Linked DNA regions of Homo sapiens: region 1 is linked to region 2. Evidence: fine-mapped expression QTL. A gene starts in region 2. The other region holds a variant in brackets. All regions are shown on one strand. Distances are between the middles of the regions.

Evidence for each region. PIP is the estimated chance that this variant, and not a neighbour inherited with it, causes the effect.
Region 1: its variant is the best candidate, but not a certain one, in a credible set for the expression of TGS1 in regulatory T cells (Schmiedel 2018, PIP 0.55).

Annotation. Positions count from the first base shown.
Region 1 is chr8:55,819,727-55,822,753 of GRCh38, reverse strand. The region is part of intron 12 of TGS1 (trimethylguanosine synthase 1); the gene reads right to left. Among named protein-coding and RNA genes, the nearest start is that of TGS1, 48 kb to the right of the region's middle. The variant C/G (reference allele first, on the strand shown) is at 1,355.
Region 2 is chr8:55,771,918-55,774,417 of GRCh38, reverse strand. It overlaps TGS1 (trimethylguanosine synthase 1), which reads right to left and starts at 972. Exons shown (of 13, transcript NM_024831.8): 1 at 699-972. The coding sequence starts at 799. TMEM68 (transmembrane protein 68) reads left to right here and starts at 1,040. Exons shown (of 8, transcript NM_001286657.2): 1 at 1,040-1,149. RefSeq lists enhancers at 534-863, 1,635-2,138 and silencers at 1,004-1,193, 1,284-1,413.

The DNA.
Region 1 (3,027 bases), 48 kb before region 2:
AGTCAAATACAGTATTCCTTATAATGATTAAAAGCACCCCCCCCACTATTTTTTTTTGTAAGGAATACTTAAAGTAAAACTAGAAATTTAAAAATAGCAAAGTAGTCTCAGAGTAGCAATTATTAGGAATAAATGTTTTAAATTCTATTTTGGTATCTTTATGCCAGTCTGGTTTTTTTACAAGAAAGGGGGAAAAAAAAAAAAGGTATTTTGTCTTTAGCCAATAAAAGGCATTTTGAACAGTTTATCATTTTTTCACAATAATTTTTCTTTGAGTTGAGATATAACTCAAATGTAGCATTTCTGCTGTGCCCTTTAACAAATAACTTAAAAATCCCCAGTTCTACCAATAATTTGCTGCATTAATTTAAAAAGCCATTTTTAGGCCGGGCGCTGTGGCTCATGCCTGTAATCCCAGCACTTTGGGAGGTCGAGGAGGGTGGATCACGAGGTCAGGAGATCGAGACCATCCTGGCAAACAAGGTAAAACCCCGTCTCTACTAAAAATACAAAAAAATTTGCTGGGGGTGGTGGCGGGCGCCTGTAGTCCCAGCTATTCGGGAGGCTGAGGCAGGAGAATGGCGTGAATTCAGGAGGCGGAGCTTGCAGTGAGCTGAGATCGCACCACTGCACTCCAGCCTGGGCGACAGAGTGAGACTCTGCCTCAAAAAAAAAAAGAAAGAAAGAAAAAAAAGCCAATATTGTTGTTGTTAAGAAAGCCATTAAAATAGGCTTTTTTTGGCTTTCTAAATCCGAAAATATGAATACTGTCTATCTCCCTAAAAGAGCATTTTAAAGAAAAGAAAAACCATTTCTGAAGTTTACTTGAAAAAAAAAATAAAGGTACTATAAATATAGTTATTATTATTATTATTTTTTGAGATGGAGTCTCGCTCTGCTGCCTAGGCTGGAGTGCAGTGGCGTGATCTCGGCTAGTACTGCAAGCTCTGCCTCCTGGGTTCATGCCATTCTCCTGCCTCAGCCTCCCGAGTAGCTGGGACTACAGGCGCCCGCCACCACACCCGGCTAATTTTTTGTATTTTTAGTAGAGACAGGGTTTCACCGTGTTAGCCAGGGTGGTCTCGATCTCCTGACCTCGTGATCCACCCACCTCGGCCTCCCAAAGTGCTGGGATTACAGGCGTGAACCACCGTGCCTGGCCGATGGTTATTATTTCTTATATAAGCCATAAATAGAATTCCATAAAAACCAATTTCTGAGAAGGTAGGGTAGTTTTGTTTTTCTTAATACCTTTCAGAGGGTTGTCTAGATGTGGGTGCTTGGGATTAAAATAAAAAACGGAGGTAAGATGGGGGTTTTCTCAGAAATCATGAGTTCTGAAGTCTGTGCAAAA[C/G]AGTTCATAAATTACTTTACTCAATAACTATTATTGAGAGCTTATAGGTATCTGTTCTAGGCAGTGCAGTATAGCAAAAAACAAACAAGAAATCCCCACCTCCATGAATTTTACATTCTGGCTGGGAGAGTCAGATGACGGACAAATAAAACAAATATTGTTCCTGATAATGGAGAAGGTGGTGTATCTATGTGACAAAATATAGTGAGAAAACTCTTATGTACTTAGTGTTTAGAAACAATTTTTTTTTAAAAACTTAACATGTTACTTTCAAGTGTTCTGATTACGAATAATTTCTAACTTTAGCCTTTTTGTACGTTTTCACATTTTCACAACTACATATATGTTAAAAGTTAGAATTTTGGAGTTGGAAAGACTTATAAATTTAGTAGTTCAAGCAAATAACTTTGCTTCAGGCAAATTTAATGAATGCCATTAATTTCTAGCTGTCCTTATTTTTCACTAGAAGGTTTAGCTGACAAAATATTATTTGGTTCCCTCCGCTTTCTTAGAATTTAGTAAATTGTGAGAGGAAGAGAGGGTAGGAAGGACAGAGAGAGGGAGAACGGCAGGTACAAACAGATAAAGATTAGCAGCTCTGGATTACTTTCCACATTTTTGGCATATTACCTAAATATATTAATTTTACCAAAATAAATCCCAATTAATTTGGACCAGAACTAGAATTAAGGACTGAACTCTTGACTAGATTTGACATCAGGCAGTAAAGCTGTTCTTTGGGGACTGGCAAAGGAGAAACAGAAAAGATCACAATGAAGGTGTTAAAGCACAGAAGATTTAAGCATCAAATAAAAAGGTAAACATTCAAAACTGCACTTTTTTTTTGTTTTGTTTTGTTTTTTGAGACGAGTCTGGCTCTACCGCCCAGGCTGGAGTGCAGTGGCATGATCTCGGCTCACTGCAACCTCTGCCTCCTGGGTTCAAGCGATTCTCCTGCCTCAGCCTGCCGAGTAGCTGGGATTACTGGCGCACCTGGCTAATTTCTGTATTTTTAGTAGAGACAGGGTTTCACGATGTTGGCCAGGCTGGTCTCAAAACTCCTGACCTCAGGTGATCCGCCCGCCTCGGCCTCTCAAAGTGTTGGGATTACAGGCTTAAGCCACTGCGCCTGGAGCAAAACTGCATTTTTTCAAGAGAAACTGGATTTAAAGTAAAAGTGCACGATAACCGAATGAGAGAAAATAACCTCCCAACTGCATCCTACTGGAAGAATAGATAATAATTACTAATGACAGATACACTTTATTACAAGAAAGACACAGAAACATCAGAGCGCTGAAAAATGCCCTATTACTACATGGAAGAGATTATATCTATGATACGCAGAAATGTGGTTAGAAGATAATTGTACCAGGTAAAAATAAAGAGCATTTTATGTGGCCTTCAGATCTGTGTCAAATACAATGCTAGCAGCAGCAAGCATCTGAAATACTGGCTGTGACTACAAACCTAATGTCACACAGGCCAAGAAAGTGCTTTGCCACTAGTTATTTTTGTCCCTCTTTTCTTTTGCTAGATCCAACTAATAACCACATGAAAATAAAACAAAGTTGGCAAAACATTTCTGGTAATTAAAAGTTCTCTGGGAGGTGAAAGAAGAAAATATTTTTTAGTCAGCAGAAAATCAGGCATCATTCAAACTTAAAAATATT
Region 2 (2,500 bases):
TTCACTTCCACAAGGATTTAACTCTAACAAAATAAGCATGTGAGATTAAATATACCCGTTATAGAGATGAAAAAAAGGTTCAAGTGGTTTAACTCACGCATTTAATATAAAGGAAACAATTCCTAGAATTCAAGTCTCTTGGCGGTATTATTCCTGCATACTAGCTATTTTTCATGTGGGGCAATTTTTACCTGATTCAAAGATTTCCCCAAAATAAAGATATCACAAAAACTGATGTAAATATGGTTAAGTCTTTTATCTCAACTAGTTTGAAGTTTTAATTATGTGCATTTGGGCTTAAGTAGATTTTTAGGTTTAAAAAAAGACGTTAACCAAAGCAAGTCACTCAACTTTAAACTTTCACTTTATGACATCATATCTACTAGAGATTTCATTTTACATGTCGCTTTCCCCCAATTTTTAAATGTCCCCTCGATTTACAAATATGAGATGACATATAGCACCTACGACATTTTTTCATAGCAGCCTACCAAGTAGATGTAGTCCTTCACATAAAAATAATGGCAGTGGGCGACCACTCCGTCATGTCTGAGGGTTTTGTTTTTCTTAAACATCACCGTGCCCAAGGGTCAGATGTTCTGGCTGCTTTCAGGGATCAATTACAACCACGTTTGCAATACCTACATTTCTGGGTAATGACTGTGCTAGAACATGAAGAGATTCTCTTTTCTACTTACTCCACAAATGCCCTGGAGCAAAGGCACAGTATCTTACAATCCTCCCGCTCCTCAATGAAGAGAAACATTTCCGCCACGCGGCTCCACTTCTCGCAGCACATTTTACCACTTCGGAGGCAGCTCTGACGTACGCAGCCCGGGTCGCGCCTGCCGGGCCTCCGCTCGGTTACTGGAGACTTAAAACAGGCCTCGCCCGCAAGCCCTGGATGAGGAGATAGAAACTGGCCCGCGGCCGCTCGCGCCGGGAACTAGCCCGGACGCTGCCGCCGGAAGTGGCTCCGAGGGGCCACGGGAAGGGGCGGGACCACGGGCGGTGTCACCCCCATCGCGGCCCGGGCTGCAGCCGCCGCTTGGCTTCTTTCACACGGGTTGCTTCGGAGGAATCCGCCGTGCAAATCTGTCCGCCCCCTTGGCCACTGATCCCCCGAAGAGCTTCTGTCGCCGCTCTAGGGTAAAGGAGAGCTGCCCCTGCCCCTGCCCCCGCCTATCCGAGGTGCGTCGGCCCCCGCGCTTCTCCAGCCCGGCATCGGGTCTGGCGGGACTGGGAGCGGCGGAGGCCGCGCGCGTCCGGTCTCCCAGGAGCCGCCTCGGAATCCCCAGTCTCTTCGCGGGCAGGCTCGGCTTCCCGCCGGCCTCAGTGTTGCGCCCCAGCGCCAGAGTGGCCGGGTGTGGAGATCCTCCCTCCTCTGGGTCAAAGAGCCTGCTCTCCCCGCCCCTCTTCTCCCCTGGCGCTCTAAACCTTCGGTTCGGCGCGTTTCATCCTAATGCATCTGGTGGGGCGAGGCGTCTCTAGCCTCTGTAGAGGCCTCTAGGCTTGCCCAGTGGCTTCGCTGGTTCCGGGACCCAGGTCGAGCCTCCGGTGTAAAAGCCAAGGGGAAGTGTGTGGTGATCCCGAGAGTGTAGGGGGAAAGCCGCGTGGGTAGAGCGTTCGTATCCAGACCGATCAGGCTTGGAATCCTGGTCCTACCTTGTGACCTGGGCAGGCAACTTCACCTTTCTGAGCTTACCTTTGATCACCTGTGAAATGGGGTTGATTAATAGTAACTACTACATGAGGCTGCAGGGAGGACTAAACGAAATGATGTATATTACACCTTTCCTTTGTGCGCTTAATCGTTGGCGTCGGTTTGGACCTTGTAGGCGTTAAGTGCTGTCTCGGTCCCTGGGGTTTGCAGCCTGTAAAACAGGTCTCTGCCTTCAAGTTACTAATTATCTAATAAGAAAAAAGTTCATGTGGGCATAAATAGGATGGAGAAAATGGAAACAGCAGCGTTGCTGGATCTGTTAAAAAGCAGTTAGTATTTGGTGTGTGGTATTCATGGAGGCTGCACGGGCAACTTCTTCAGAGACAAGCTCAGACTTGAAAGTTGGAGCGCTTCGGACGTGGTTGGTGCTACGAAATGCCAAAATAGTATTGGTACTTCTTCAGAACTATATAAAAACTGAGCTAAAATTCATGCATTTTGAATGGTATTTTCAATAGTATTTTGGCCACATTTACTAGTTAGTGGAAATATTCATTTTCAAATGTTTATTCCCACCTCCTTACTGCTGCCCTACTTTGAGGTCGGAGATAGGCTGATTTTGTTGGTTCAAGAAGGTAAGAGTGCTGCACGGTTACAGATATACCAGTATAGATGTGCAGCATTATTGGGATGAGTAGCTGGGTTACGATAATAAGGGTAGAACAGTAATTATGAAACAGAGTGGAAGATTTTAGCTAGAAGTTGGGCATTCTAGGATTAAAGAAAAGTCTTGAAGGGTAATTTGTATCAGAACCTCGAGTTTAAAGCTTGAAATAA